2 separate regions of the Homo sapiens genome follow, and region 1 is linked to region 2. Evidence: fine-mapped expression QTL. A gene starts in region 2. The other region holds a variant in brackets. All regions are shown on one strand. Distances are from middle to middle. Region 1 holds the start of LOC124902914 (a long non-coding RNA gene). Region 2 holds the start of YARS2 (tyrosyl-tRNA synthetase 2).

What was found.
Region 1: its variant is fine-mapped to the expression of YARS2 in visceral fat (GTEx, PIP above 0.99).

The regions. Positions count from the first base shown.
Region 1 is chr12:32,647,772-32,656,109 of GRCh38, reverse strand. It overlaps LOC124902914 (a long non-coding RNA gene), which reads right to left and starts at 5,612. Exons shown (of 2, transcript XR_007063270.1): 1 at 5,346-5,612; 2 at 3,751-4,000. The variant G/A (reference allele first, on the strand shown) is at 3,510.
Region 2 is chr12:32,752,329-32,760,666 of GRCh38, reverse strand. YARS2 (tyrosyl-tRNA synthetase 2) reads left to right here and starts at 4,770. Exons shown (of 5, transcript NM_001040436.3): 1 at 4,770-5,571; 2 at 6,582-6,749. The coding sequence starts at 4,793. RefSeq lists enhancers at 3,911-4,550, 4,755-4,984, 5,005-5,104, 4,551-5,190, 5,475-5,634 and 1 more.

The DNA.
Region 1 (8,338 bases), 100 kb after region 2:
TTAATGTGTCAAAGTTTTACCTTTTTCAGAATGTCATATACATAGTTGGAATCATATGATATGTAGTTTTGTTTTTGTTTTTAGAGATGGGGTATCACTATGTTGCTCAGACTGGTCTCAAACTCTTAGGCTCAAGTGACATGTCAGAAGAACCAGGAGGCAGCTCGAAGGGTCTCCCACTGGCAAAATCTGGGACAGTTAAACATAAAAATTAACATAAAATTTAAAATAATGGCAACGGATTATACAATCCATTGAATAAAATAGGAACACAGGAATCCAAACATATGAATGAATGAATGAATGAATGAATGAATAAATAAATAAATGATAAGAAAAAATGCTTATAGTAGGATGCCAACAAATAAGTGTAGAAGAAATGATGAAATGAAAACATCAGCAATTGACAAAACAAAGGAATCATTCAGAATCATCAATGGACATTGATGGGTAAAAAATTCTTGACTAGGATATCTACATAATCTCAAAATATGTCTCCATATATATATATTTTTTTCTTTTTGAGATGGAGTCTTGCTGTGTCCCCAGGCTGGAGTGCAATGGCACGATCTTGGCTCAATGCAACCTCCACCTCCTGAGTTCAGGCGATTCTCATGCCTCAGCCTCCCAAGTAGCTGGGACTACAGGCACGTGTCACCACACCCAGCTAATTTTTGTGTTTGTAGTAGAGATGGGGTTTCACCATGTTGGCCAGGTTGGTCTCGAACTCCTGGCCTCAAGTGATCTGCCTGCCTCTGCCTCCGAAAGTGCTTGGATTACAGGCATAAGAGCCACTGCACCCAGCCAATATGTAGCCTTTTTAGTTGACTTCTTTCATTTGGTGAATGCCCTTAAGGTCCCTCTATGTCTTTTCATAGCCTGATAGCTAATTTCTTTTTAGTGCTGCATAATACTCCATTGTCACATTTGTCGATCTGTTCACCTACTGAAGGACGTCTTGGTTGTTTCCAAGTGTTGGCAATTGTGAATAAAGCTGCTCTGTAGCAGGTTTGTGTGTGGACATAAGTTTTCAACTCATTTAGGTAAATACCAAGGAGTGTGCTGCTGGTTCGTATAAGTTTAGTTTTGCAAGAAAAACTGTCAAACTATAAAGTGGCTGTACCCTTTTGCCTTCCCACCTACCATGAGCGAGAGTTCCAGTTGCTCCACATCCTTGTCAGCATTTGTGGTCAGTGTCTCGATGTTGACCATTCTAACAGGTGTGTAGTAATATCTCATTTTAATTTACATTTCTTCCAAAACTTCAATTTATTTGAAATATATTCAGACTTACAGAAAAGTCATAAGTATTTTAAAAGAACTCTAGTTTACCCTTCACCTAGATTCTTTTAACATTTTTATCACATTGCTTCTGCTCTATCATTCTTTCTCCCTCTCTCTCATCTCTGAACCATTTGAGTATAAGTTACAGACACGATGTGTCTTTTTCCTCAAATACTTCAGTGTATATTTTCAAGGACATGGATATTTTCTTACATAACCACAGTGCAATGGTCAAAACAGAAAAATTAGCAGCTACAGTATGATGATCTAATCTACAGATGTTATTCATTTAACGGTTATCTCAATAATATCCTTTATAGCCAAAAAAAAGAAAGAATAAATTGTGGCCTAAGTCCAGCGCACATTGCATTTACTTATCATGTGTTTCTATCCTTTAACCTGGAACAGTTCTTTAGTCTGTCTTTGTCTTTCATGAGCTTAACTTTTTTTTTTTTTTTGAGACGGAGTCTCACTCTGTCACCCAGGCTGGAGTGCAATGGCATGATCTTGGCTCACTGCAACCTCCGCTTCCCAAGTGATTTTCATGCCTCAGCTCCCGAGTAGTTGGGACTACAGGTGCCCGCCACCAAGCCCAGCTAATTTTTGTATTTTTAGAGGAGATGGGCTTTCACCATATTGGCCAGGCTGGTCTCGAACTCCTGACCTTGTGATCCACCCGTCTTGGCCTCTCAAAGTGCTGGGATTACAGGCGTGAGCCACTGCGCCCAGCTGAATTTAACATTTTTGAAGAATACAGGCCAGGTAATTTTTTTTTTTTTTTTTTTTGAGACAGAGTCTCGCTCTGTCGCCCAGGCTGGAGTGCAGTGGTGCAATCTTGGCTCATTGCCAGCTCTGCCTCCCAGGTTCATGTCATTCTGCCTCAGCTTCCCGAGTAGCTGGGACTACAGGCGCCCGCCACCAAGCCCGGCTAATTTTTTGTATTTTTAGTAGAAACAGGGTTTCACCGTGTTAGCCAGGATAATCTTGATCTCCTGACCTCCTGATCCGCCTGCCTCGGCCTTCCGAAGTACTGGGATTACAGGTGTAAGCCACCGTGCCCTGCCAAATATAGGCCAGGTATTCTATAGAATGTTCCTGAGTTTGGGTTTGTCTGTTATTTCCTCATGATTAGATTACACTTTTAAAAATGTATTTAGTTTGTCATGTAACCCCAAATACTCAGATAGATTTCACTTTTAGCAGGAAAACAACAGATGTGATGTGTCCTCTCAGTGCTTCATATCAAGAGATACATGAGACCAGTTTGTCCTCACTGGTAATGTTAACTTGGTTAAGATGCTGTCCACCAAGTTTTTCTACTGCAAAGTTACTATTTTTATTTTTGTAATTAATAAGAATTTTATGGGCCAGGCGCGGTGGCTCAGCATGTAATCCCAGCACTTTGGGAGGCTGAGGTGGGCGGATCACTTGAGGCCAGGAGTTCCAGAACAATCTGGCCAAGATGGTGAAACCATGTCCCTACTAAAAACACAAAAATTAGCTGGACGTGGTGGCTCACGCCTGTAGTCCCAACTACTTGGGAGGCTGAGGCACAAGAATTGCTTGAACTCCGGAGGTGGAGGTGGCAGTGAGCTGAGATCCTGCCACTGCACTCCAGCCTGGGGACAGAGCAAGACTCCATCTCAAAACAAAACAAAAAAGCAATTTTATGGAGACATATTTTGAGATTATGTAGTTATCCTGGTCAAGAATTTTTTACCCATCAATGTCCACTGAGGATTCTGAATGATTCCTTTGTTTTGTCAATTGCTAATGTTTTCATTTTATCATTTCTTCTACACTTACTTGTTGACATCCTACTATAAGCACTTTTTCTTATCATTTATTTATTCATTCTTTCATATGTTTGGATTCCTGTGTTCCTCCTTTATTCAATGGATTTTATAATCCATTGCCATCATTTTAAATTTTTTTTGTTAATTTTTATGTTTAACTGTCCCAGATTTTGCCAGTGGGAGACCCTTCAAGCTGCCTCCTAGTTCTTCTGACATGTCCCCATCATTCTTTGGGCCCTTTCTTACTTTCTGGTACAATATAATATTCCAGGCTTATTGTGAATTTTTCCTGCCCAAGCCCTTGAATCAACCATTTCTTCAAGGAATGCTGGTTCTTTTTAGTGGAAAATGGTGTTTAGAAAACAAAATACAAAAACAAAATTGGGGTATTACTTCTAGACCCTCACAGCAGACAGCTAGAAAATATGT[G/A]TATATGTACATTTATATAACCCCCCACATAGGTATTATATGTACTATATCTATATTTATACTTAGCTAAACCATTAATACCTATTTTCCATTCCAATAACATAGGATTTATTATGTCCCCCCTTCCACATCTATATCTGCTTTCTCTGACAGTAGGAAACTTGGCTCCCATTATCCTCAGCATATTTATTTACTGGATTAGTCAGGGTTCTCTAGAGGGACAGAGCTAATAGGATAGATGTATATATGAAGGGGAGTTTATTAAGGAGTATTGATGCACACGATCACAAGGTGAGGTCCCACAATAGGCCGTCTGCAAGCTGAGGGGTAAGGAAGCCAGTCTGAGTCCCAAAACCTCAGAAGTAGGGGAGCCGACAGCGCAGCCTTCAGTCTGTGGCCAAAGGCCTGAGAACCCCTGGCAAACCAATGGTGTAGTCCAAGAGTCCAAAAGCTGAAAAACTTGGAGTCTGTTGTTCAAGGGCAGGACGCATCTAGCACGGGAGAAAGACAAAGGCCAGAAGACTCAGCAAGTCTGCTCTTCCATCTTCTGCCTGGTTTATTCTAGCTGCGCTGGCAGCTGATTAGGCAGTGCCCACCCAGATTGAGGGTGGGTCTGCCTCTCCCAGTCCACCGACTCAAATGTTACTCTCCTTTCGCAGCACCCTCACGGACACACCCAGGAACAATACTTTGCATCCTTCAATCCAATCAAGTTGACACTCAATATGAACTATCACATTCACTGAGTTCTAGAACTCAGCAAAACAAATAAACACATGTTAGAACTACTAAGCTCTACCACTGGGAAAAACAAGCCAGGGATCTAGAGTTCAATATTTGTTTGCACTCTGAGTCCACATACTGTATGCAAAAGTTTGAGTTAGTTCTTTTTTCTCTTCAGTGTGGTTATGTTTTTCATTTGGTACCATTTGATATATGGATATGTTCACTTGTTTATATTTGTACTCCATGGGGGAGGGGAGTGTTCACCATTAGGGGTGTGTGTGTGTGTGTGTGTCTGTTTATAAAACACTGAGATGGTTCAAAAGTCAAAACTCTGCAAAAAGGTATACTCACGAAAGCATCATGACTTTTTTTAGCAAATAATTTTTCATTTCTTTCTTTCTTTCTTTCTTTCTTTTTTTTTTTTTTGAGACAGGGTTTCACTCTGTCACCCAGGCTGGAATACAATGGTGCAATCATAGCTCACTGCGACCTCAAACCCCTGGGCTCAAGCGATCCTCCTGCCTCAGCCTTCTCAGTAGCTGGGACTACAGGCTCATGCCACCATGCCCACCTAATTATTACTACTTTTTTTAAAGATAGGAGGGTCCTCACTATCTTGCCCAGTCTGGTCTCTAACTCCTGGCCTCAAGTGATTCTCCCACCTTGTCCTCTCAAAGTGGCAAATAATTCTTTTTTATTGAGAGTTCTTCCTCCTATTTTTTTTATAACTGTGGGCCTGGATCCTTTGGTTCATTTACCCTGTATTCATTCTGTGCCTTCCTGTTCTCCAGTCTTCAAGCACATACATAGACATACACACAAATTCAGCAGATAGTAAAAAAAACCACAAGATGATCTTTCAGATGACATACATTTTTCCCACTTTTAAACATAACATGATTCTATGTGGAAACAATTTTTTAAGTTAATTTTTTGCACCGTAATTATTTTTGTTTGGTGTATGATAATGACATATTTAAGTGATCATCTAAAAATAGCAATTTTTGTGAAAATGCCACAGTGGGCTATGAGGCCCTAATCTTATTCTATAAAAGCAGAGCATTTCCTTTACTAAGAGAGTAAGCAAACTGGTTTTCTGTTTTTACTTACCTGCAGGACAAAACAGTGCATGAATCACTTCCTCTGTAAGAAAGTGATGGTAGCCTAGGCGCTCATTATCCAAACCATTTGCCAGGTCCACTCTGCCAGCCCCATTTCCTCAGGATGTCTGTCCTTCAGCACTTTCGGCTCCTTCTGGGACAGTCATCAGCTGCCTCTAATCTCCTCACAGTCCAGGTGCTGTGATAATGGTGGTGGTAGTGGGCTGAGACTGTATGTCTCTCTCTCTCTATATATATATTTTTTCTTGTAAAATTTTTTTATTTTTTATTTTTTAAATTATTATTATTATTATTGAGATGGAGTCTCGCTCTGTCACCCAGGCTGGAGTGCAGTGGCGTGATCGCGGCTCACTGCAAGCTGCACCTTCCAGGTTCACGCCATTCTCCTGCCTCAGCCTCCTGAGTAGCTGGGACTACAGGCACCCGCCACCACACCCAGCTAATTTTTTTGTATTTTTAGTAGAGACAGGGTTTCACCGTGTTAGCCAGGATGGTCTTGATCTCCTGACCTCGTGATCCGCCTGCCTCGGCCTCCCAAAGTGCTGGGATTACAGGCGTGAGCCACCACGCCCAGCCTAATTTTATTTTTTTTAAGCTGCAGGTCTTGCTATGTTGCCCAAGCTGGTCTCGAACTCTGGGTTCAAGTGATCTTCCTGTCTCAGCCTCCCAGGTGAATTACAGGCATGATGCCTAGCTCTGAGACTGATTTTTTAAAAACAAGAATCCACTGTGCCAAGGTTGACTAAGATTTTCACCATTATATTTTGAAGTCCTGTTTTTTCTCTTTTTCCTTTTTTTTTTTCTTTTCTTTTTGACACAGGGTCTTGCTCTGTCACTCAGGCTGGAGTCGGGGAGGATTGCTTGAGCCTGGGAAGCAGAGGTTGCAGTGAGCTGTGATCATGCCACTGATTCTAGCCTCAGCGACAAAGCAAGGCTCTGTCTCAAAAATAAATAAGTAAAAATAAAATTGGGGCCAGGAGCGGTGGCTCACACCTGTAATCCCAGCACTTTAGGAGGCCGAGGCAGGTGGATCACGAGGTCAAGAGATCGAGACCATTCTGGCCAACATGGTGAAACCCCGTTTCTACTAAAAATACCAAAATTAGCTGGGCTTGGTGGCATGTGCCTGTGGTCCTAGCTACTCAGGAGGCTGAGTCAGGAGAATCGCTTGAACCTGGGAGACAGAGGTTGCAGTGAGCCAAGATCACACTACTGTACTCCACCCTGACGACAGAGCGAGACTCCGTCTCAAAAAATAAATAAAATAAAGTTCGGAGTTGACAGCATGAAAGTATGAAAGTATGTGTGAATACTAGTGGAATGAGTGCAGATAAAGGAGATAAGTCACAACATACTTAGGCCTGAGACACCCCTGAAAGGTGTGAAAAACAGCAAAGAAGACCAAGAAAGGGTTCAAGAGAAGAACATCAGGGGTTTGGGGCTGGGCGCTATGGCTCACACCTGTAATCCCAGCACTTTGGGAGGCTGAGATGGGAGGATCGCTTGAGTCCAGGAGTTCAAGACCAGTCTGGTCTGCATGGAGAGACCTCCCCATCCCTAAAGTAAATACATAAATAGAAAAAAAATCCAAGGGTTTGGGGTTCTACAAGCCAAGGGAAGAAAGTGAATTAAGGAGAGCATGACCAAGTATGTCAAATGCTACTAAGATGAGGACTGAGAACTTGACTATTGAATTTAGCAGCATACAAGTTATTGGTAACCTTGATATAAGAGCAGTTTCAGTGAAATGGTGGGTGCAAAATGCTGACTGGAATCCGTTCAGTAAAGAACGGGAAGAGAGGAATTGGAGACAGTAAGTATAGAAAACTCTTTCAAGGAGTGTTGCTGCTAATGGGAGGAAAAGTGGAGTGAAGAGGCTTACGTTGGGAAGAATTATAGCAGGTTTTCGCTAATAAGATTCAAGAAGAAATCTGACATTACATGAGAAAGGGAGAATGGCAGGCGAATGGGAAATTGGATACTGTGCACAGGTGAGGGACCCAATTAGGACAGGACATGGATAGGCAGGGAGAGAGAGTATATGGTCTCAAGAGGTAATAGGTGGCTTAGATATGGTTGTGGGAGGCTGTCCCCTGCTGATTGCTTGTATTTTACTAAAGTGGGAAGGAAGGTCATCTATTGGGATGGAGGATTGGGGATACAGTGGAGGTCTCAGGAGGAAGTAGTGATGACCTAGTAATAAATTTTAGGTGAAACCAATCTGCTTTGTTCAGCCACATGGGTACAAGTATGAAAACAGAACTGAGTAAACTGGGGATTTGGTTTTGCCAAGCGAGACAAAGCTAGACGTGGCGAAGGAAGTGAGTGAATGTGAGGGAGTGATCAGTGACTGAACATCGGATTTAAAATGGGTAAGGGTAGAAGAGAGGACATCAAGAGCTGAGGGACAAATTATTAGCTTTTTAAAATCTGTTTTCTTTCTTTTTTTTGGAGAGGGGGAGGTAGGGACAGAGTTTCACCCTTGTTGCCCAGGCTGGAGTGCGATGGCACTATCTCAGCTCACTGCAACCTCCACCTCCCGGGTTCAAACAATTCTCCTGCCTCAGCCTCCCAAATAGTTGGGATTACAGGCGTGCGCAACCATGCCCAGCTAATTTTGTATTTTTAGTAGAGACAGGGTTTCACCATGTTGGTCGGGCTGTTTTTGAACTCCTGACCTCAAGTGATCCACCTACCTCCGACTCCCAAAGTGCTGGGATTACAGGCATGAGCCACCACGCCTGGCCAAATCTGTTTTCTTATCTGAATCTTAGAATGTTATTGTGAGGCTTTTATGTGATAATGTAAATACAGTACTTAGCACAGAACTAAGCACTGAATAAACATTCTACCAGTGCTTCTGAAATGAAGCTTTCCATCAGAATCACCTGGGGAATTTTTGAACCGACTATTACTCGGAGGCCAATGCAGACAAATAAATAGAATTTTTGAGGGGGATGGGGATGGGGACCAGGGAATGGC
Region 2 (8,338 bases):
TCCTTCTCTAAACTCTAATATAGAAAGGAAATGCATATCTAGTAACATGTTTCTTTGTCTAATTATCCTCCTACAATCAGCATCTTAAAATAAGCTAATCTCTTATAAAAAATTTTTGGATGTTAATATGACCATCAGCTCAAAAAGCATTAAAGCCACTTCAATCAAGGGACACAGACTAGGTTTCAAGACACTTAGCTCACATAAATTTCTATAAATTTTAATAGAACTTAATGGTCTTTCCATTTTTTTGTGTGGGAAGGGTAAGCATTATTGATTTTACATTTTAATACATTTTAGGGGCATGATGAACCTGGACAGTAAAAGCATCCTTCCTTCGCCCTACCTAATGCAGAGGAGCTTCCTGAAAGAAATTAGTTTGGAATGAAAGGGGAGCAACTGCCTTGCAGGTAAGGATGGGCAGAGTGGGAGGATCTTTAGGACTTTAGATGTAGGTTTCAAGAAAAACAGCAACATGAAAGTCATGTGTGAGAAGATGTAATTATGAGGCAGATTGAGTTATAAATTATTATACAAAGACAACAAAGACATGAAATCAATCTTTAGAAATGATTCTTCCCAAGTAATAGGAGATAGGAATGTCATGGAAATACTTCAACTGGAAGAAAAGCCATGGAAATACTTCAACTGGAAGAAAAGCCATGGCCTTTCTGCAATAACCTACAATTTCTTTTTCTTTTCTTTCTTTTTTTTTTTTTTGAGATGTTGTCTCACTCTGTTGCCCAGGCTGGAGTGCAGTGGTGCTATGTCGGCTCACTGCAACCTCCGCCTCCCAGGTTTAAGTGATTCTCCTGCCTCAGCCTCCTGAGTAGCTGGGATTACAGACGCCCGCCACCACGTCTGGCTAATTTTTGTATTTTTGGTTGAGACGGGAGTTTCACCATGTTTGTCAGGCTGGTCTCAAACTCCTGACCTCAGGTGATCTGCCCGCCTCAGCCTCCCAAAGTGCTGGGATTACAAGCGTGAGCCACCATGCCCGGCCGTAACCGGGCATGGTTACGTAGGTTTACAATTATAGGTTTACAATTTCTATTTCTTGTTCCTATCCACTCCCTTTTGCATCTGATGTCACCAATAATCTTCTCCAAGGAAAAAAAAACAGAAAACACAAATAAGAATTATATTTTATAGTGATTATAATGATCAGAATTCCTCAGACTTCTTTCTGCTGTCATTTTGCTGTGATGTTCGAGCAGCTCATATTTCAGCCCTAATCAGATCTCTGCTGTAATCTGAATATATATTTAATACAATGCTAGAGATAGAGAAATTTTCAAAGTTAAGTAGAGATCAGTTAAAATACCATTACTGTTTACTCTGTGTCTTTTGAATTCTATTATATTTATATTTGTTTACATTTTGAAAACCAAGCCATTTAAAACAGGGATCCCTTCAAAGAGAACATTTATGTGGCATTTTGTTGCAGGAAAAGGTAACTGTAAAACACATGTGCCTCTAATTCAAGGCCAGTTAACCTCAAGTTATTACAGTTGAGATAAATCATATTTTTAAAAATACTTTTTAACCCTTGTTCACTCACTTTTTAAGCCAATAAAAACAGCAAGAATTAACTTGGTCACTTTTTTGTAACCCAAATGCAAACCATGGGTGCAATCCCATAAAATTTTAGCCACGGATATAATTCCAAAGGTTTGAAAGTCCCATCTTCTTTATTGCTCCTGTCTTTGGGACAAAGCCCAATTTCCCCTATAATACCAACACAAATTATAAAAAGAGAGTAATTGATCTCACTGTATTTTCCAAACTTGTTGCTTGTTACTGTCATTAAGCTACTGTCAAGTCTCATCTAGCACCTCCTGTGACACCACCTTCTTTTTTTTTTTTTTTTTTTGAGACGGAGTTTGGCTTTCGTTGCCCAGGCTGGAGTGCAATGGCATGATCTCGGCTCACTGCAACCTCCACCTCGTGGGTGCAAGCAATGCTCCTGCCTCAGCCTCCCAAGTAGCTGGGATTACAGGCATGCGCCACCATGCCCGGCTAATTTTGTATTTTTATTAGAGATGGGGTTTCTCCATGTTGGTCAGGCTGGTCTCAAACTCCCAACCTCAAGTGATCCGCTCACCTCAGCCTCCCAAAGTGCTGGGATTACAGGCGTGAGCCACCGCACCCGGCCCGACACCACCTTCTATATCAGACTTTGCTGCCTCTTCATGAGATGCAACTAAACTTAAGAGACAAAGCAGAGCTCAAATCTATTTTTAAAAGACTTTATAATAAATTGTAATCCCAGGTAGAAATTTTCTATTTCTCATTATCCACAAAATTCTTCTCCATTAAGCACAGGTCATCAAGTAACCCTGACATCAAGTAACCCTGGCATACTGTTGTAACAAGTAGGATTTTCAAATTACTAACACACCTGTAAAAGCCAGAGAGTTGTGTGTCACCAGAAACACATGTGTGCCCTATGTATTAAGGTACTAAATAGAAAGCACCATTTGCTGTGTGTGTGACAGTACTGATTCCATGTTAGAAGAAAGCTTGCTTACTTGAATACAATTATTACTTTGCTTGATTTTGTAGATCATTCACTAAAATCAGCCTCAGAAAAACAGGATCTTGAACAGAGATAAAAGAAAATACCTAGATCAGCCTCTCTGTGAATGGGCTGACCGACCTAATAAGAATAGGCTGATGGTACCTGCAGAAAGCCACAAAATATTGACCAAGAAAGCAATGATTTACTGCCGACCTGAGACTGCACACGTTTCACAAAAATCTTTTTATCATCCTTTCTCTTAATTGCCCTTAAAAACCAGAGGTGGTCTTTGAACGCTAGCTCACTGCATCCCCCAGGGTTGCTGGTCTCTTGAATAAAGCTAACTTTACTTTCACTACAGCTCTTCTCTTGGGTTTTTGGCTTTCAAGTGACAAGTGGCCCAGATGTGAGTTTCCTTACGTGTGCTCAGGAGAATTTCCTGCCATACCTACTGAAATCTGTCCCTGATCAAAGTGGTGGACCATATGACTGCAGATTGGCCTTGCGAAGTAGCTCATGCCTGTAATCCCAACACTTTGGGAGGCAGAGGTGGGAAGCTTGCTTGAGGCCAGGAGTTTAGGACCACCCTGGGCAATACAGTGAGACCCCCGTCTCTACAAAAACAAAAAATAAAAATTAGCCAGGCATGGTAGTCCACACCTGTAGCTCCAGCTACTTGGGAGGCTGAGGCAGGAAGATCGCTGGAGCCTAGGAGTTCAAGGCTGCAGTGAACCATGATCCTGCCACGGCACTCCAGTGTGGACAACAGAGTGACACTTAAAAAAAAAAAAAACACTGAAGATCAACAGGTTATGATTGCAAATTTTAAGATATTTTGAACACACTATTTTCTTAAGCAGTTGGGAGTATGTTTAATAGCCTATTGAATGAGTATCTCAAAATCCTATTGAAGTTACTATTTGGCAATGAGAAACTAATTCACTGATAATTATACATGCAAAGAAACTAATTATTAAAATAAGTTTTCATTTTGTTAGATAACTTTATAACGTTAAAAAATGGAAAAGTCCTGTAGGGAATGATTTGGAACATGGCCCAGATCCCAGTCACAGGACCAAGGCACTCAATCCCCCAGCTGCTGGGAGTGTTGGTTGCTTATTGCTCACAGCTGAGTCCCTTCCTGCACATCTCACTCTCCAAAAGCCTTAACCCAGCGTTTTGCTTCCTCCCCAGAAACATCCCACATTTAATGAGCAGTCAGTAAGAGGGTCTAAAGGTCTGCCCCCTGGCCTCAATTCAGGATGACTCTGAAAGGAAATCCCGGCTCCAGAGCCCTTACTGGATTGCCTGAGGCCTCTATTACAAATTGTTCACAGTTCAACTTCTTTCTCCCTCCGCCCAACCCGGCCTCCCTCACTCCATTATAGGTGTTGTTCTTAAGAGCACACTCCAATTACCCTCCTGCAAACCAGTCTCCCCCCCAACTCAGAGTCCAGGGAATTCTACCTAAGACGATTTTGAAAGCGGTCCTAGAAATCAGGCTCTAACATGGGATTTTGAAGCTAGATCACCTGCCAGCCAGCTGCCAATAAGAACCTCATCCCTGGTCAGTATTCAGAGCACCTGTCACGCTGCACGATGTGATTACTAACTTGAATCCACTCATGCTAAGCTGTGTCCCAACCTAGTTAACTGTATTTAAAATAAATAAACCACAGGACTTGATGCATGTACTTTATTGCACTGAGTTTTTCTTGCTATACCTTGGACAAGACTGCCACCTCCTGGAAGAGCCGATGAATACTGGGGACGAGGTGCAATTAGGGAATCGGTACTATGAAATTGCTTGCGTCTCAGCAGCAACTCCCTATCTCTCCGCGAACTTAAACCAATTCCTAACCTTTCTCAACCTCTGTGAACAGCTTTTTGCATGGAACCAAGACTTCAAAGAACTTGCGCATCACAATCTTTTTACGTGAAAATGTAAATACAAGTTAGCATTTGTGAAGCGTTATGTGCCAAATGCTTTAATTTTTAAGGCTCACAACAGCCTTATGAGGTAGGAACTATCATAAGCAGATCCACACTGCTGATGGAAAAATTAAGTTTAAGGGAACGTAAGGCGACGGCTCTGAGGCGGAATCGCCACTTGGAGTCGGGACTCAACTGCTGAGAGCGCAAGCTCCGTAACTACGTAACCGTCTCGGGCATGCGCAGAAAAACACTGAAGCACCTTCCCTAGGAGCTGTAAGTAGGTGGGTGTGGTGGGAGCCTCTGCAATCCCAGCATTCCCTTCGTGCCGCTACCAAGATGGCGGCGCCCATCTTGCGGTCCTTTTCCTGGGGCCGGTGGTCTGGTACCCTAAATCTCTCAGTATTGTTGCCCTTGGGGCTGCGTAAGGCCCACTCGGGCGCTCAGGGGTTACTGGCAGCGCAGAAGGCTCGAGGTCTGTTCAAGGACTTCTTCCCGGAGACGGGGACGAAAATAGAGCTCCCAGAGCTCTTCGACCGTGGCACGGCGAGTTTTCCCCAAACCATTTACTGTGGCTTCGACCCCACGGCAGACTCGCTTCATGTGGGTCATCTACTTGCGCTGCTGGGCCTGTTTCATTTGCAGCGAGCGGGCCACAACGTGATCGCGCTGGTGGGAGGCGCCACGGCGCGCCTGGGAGACCCGAGCGGCCGTACCAAGGAACGCGAGGCGCTGGAGACAGAGCGCGTGCGAGCCAACGCGCGAGCTCTGCGCCTAGGGCTTGAGGCCCTGGCGGCTAATCACCAGCAGCTTTTCACTGATGGGCGCTCCTGGGGCAGCTTCACTGTGCTGGACAACTCGGCCTGGTACCAGAAGCAGCACCTGGTGGACTTCCTGGCGGCAGTGGGGGGTCACTTCCGCATGGGGACGCTGCTGAGCCGGCAGAGCGTGCAGCTGCGGCTCAAGAGCCCCGAGGGCATGAGCTTGGCCGAGTTCTTTTACCAGGTGCTCCAGGCCTATGACTTCTATTACCTCTTCCAGCGTTATGGATGCAGGGTCCAGCTGGGCGGATCTGATCAACTAGGCAACATCATGTCCGGATATGAGTTCATCAACAAGTAAGTGCCTTTAAACCTTGGGGAAATCCTGGGACCAAATAATTTACACACTAGTAGCCTGTGATTCACTCTTAGGATTGTAGTTGCTGCCCTTCGTTCCAGCTCTTGTTGGTTTTATCCCCATTAAGGCTCTATAATGGCGTTAATAACACTGGCTAATAAGAATTAAAGGGCTGAATTAAGGGTATTAAGAGTAAACGGTGTATTCTAAAAATTAGCTGGGCGTGGTGATGCACGCCTGTAATCCCAGCTATTCGGGAGGCTGAGGCAGGAGAATCTCTTGAACCCGGGAGGCGAAGGTTTCAGTGAGCCGAGATCGCGCCACTGCACTCCAGCCTGGGGCAACAGAGGGAGACTCCGTCTCAAAAAAAAAAAAAAAAAAAAGGGAAACAGACCACTAGTGAAGATTTGGTCGGTCTGTTTTGCTTCGCCTAAGTCGTCCTCTCTAATTAGAGAAACTGCTTTTGTGTGTTTATACCAGAACGTGACTGGGCCTCCTTGAGTAGCTAGCCTCTGCTTTAGCTCTGCACCCTCCATGAAACTAGTGTTAGTCCTTGGTTGGTATCTCAAAAAGTTTTTTCAACTCCAAATAATTGACAAGTAATGCGGGTCTAATAGCATTTTCTTGAGAGAGGTGAAGGATAGGGCTAGCTCATGTGCAACAGAGCAAAGCACATGTTTAAAAGGCGTTTAGAAGATTTCCTTTAGTGTCTCTTCCTGACACCCCTTCACCCAGTTTTCTCCTTCCCACTCAGCCTTTCAAAATCTCTAGTCCATTGTTATGTAGCACTTCCCCTTGGCCTGCCTAGAACCTGCCTGGAACCACTCATGAGGTTCAGAATGAATAGAGTAAGTACTGTAACAATACATAAGAGGAACAAGAATTCAGATTTAGGAGGTCAAGGAAGTTTTCCTGGAGCAAGTAACCAGAAAGAAATCTGGAAGGTGAACAGTAGAACCTACCACCACTTGTGCTTGAGGCACATAATGAAATTGTTCTTTATGCGTAGGTTGACTGGAGAAGATGTATTTGGAATCACCGTTCCTCTAATTACAAGTACAACTGGAGCAAAGCTGGGAAAGTCTGCTGGCAACGCTGTTTGGCTAAACAGAGATAAGACATCTCCATTTGAATTGTATCAATTCTTTGTCAGGCAACCGGACGATTCAGTGGAAAGGTGAGTTCTGAATAATGGGCTGAGAAAAACTGACACCATAAACTCATGATGTAATTTTAGCCATTGAATCTATGTACATTTTATAGTTTTTTTGTTTTTAACGTAGTTTCTGTCTGTACATAAACCATTACATCATAGAAGACTAATTTTTACTGTGTTCTAAAGTTAAACACTTTGTTGGTTAAAGCAGAAAAACAGTGGGTGGCTAGAAAATGTAGAGCCAACTTTTTGATCTGTATCTAGCAAGTTCTTAGGATTTTATCACCTGCATATTCTAGTTTTTTCACTCCTTTCAACTTAACCTTGACTACCCTTATTTTTCCTTTGTCTCTCTTCTCTCACAAATATGACTTTAAAGATCCTCTTAAGAAATGATTTCTCCTTAAATCAAATTGCCTTAAACTCTTGGAAGAATATGAATTAATGAGAAACAAATATACCTGCAACAAAAAGTGAAAAAAATATTTTGATGCTCTGTAACATCAAAGTAATCTAGGAATAATTCTTTAAGACTTAAAAGGTATATGACTTTCCTGCAAAATATTAAAAGATGCTATTGAGCAAAATAAAGACCTACATAAATGGAGAGTTAGACCATATTCATAGTACAAAAATAATATCAGTTCTTTTTTGTATTTTTTGAAACAGAATCTCACTCCCATTGCCCAGGCTAGAGTGTAGTGACGCAGTCTTGGCTCACTGTAGCCTGAAATTCCCAGGCTCAGGTGCACACCACCATGCCCAGCTAATTTTGTATTTTTTTTTTAGTAATGGTGGAGTTTCACCTTGTTCCCCAGGCTGGTCTCAGACTCCTGGACTCAAGCGATAAACCTGCCTCAGACTCCCAAAGTGCTGGGATTACAGCATGAGCCCCCGCACCCGGCCAAGATACCAGTTCTGGATTTGATCTACATTTAGTACAGTGCCAACCATATCTAAACCGGCTTTTTGTGGAACTTGACAAGCTCATTGTAACACTGACATAGAAATAAAAAGGGCTAAGATTGGCCAAGATGTTTTTGAAGAACAGAGTGGAAGATTATCATGCCTTATTACAAAATTTTGGTAATTGTGTTTTTTTCTCTTTAGATTTAGTCCTAGAATGTTTGACGATATAGTCCTGGGGTTTTGATGTATTGAGAATTGATAATCTTTTTTTTTTTTTTTTTTTTTTTTTGAGGCAGTGTCTCACTTTGTTGCCCAGGCTAGAGTGTAGTGGCATGATCTTGGCTCATTGCAACCTCCGCCTCCTGGGTTCAAGTGATTCTCCTGAGTAGCTAGGACTACAGGCATGCGCCACCATGCCCAGCTAATTTTTGTATTTTTGTAGAGGCAGGGTTTCGCCATGTTGGCCAGGCTGGTCTCGAACTCCTGACCTCAAGTGATCCACCTTCCTCAGCCTCCCAAAGTGCTGGGATTACAGGCTTGAGCTACCGCACCCGGCCTAGAGAATTTAGATAATCTTTTCAAAAATTGCATTTTCTATCTGGTTCTGGTGTATAGAAATACAATTACTTTATATATATTACCTTTAAATCTAGCAACTCTGCCAAACTCACTATTTGATTACAGACGTGAGCCACTGCGCC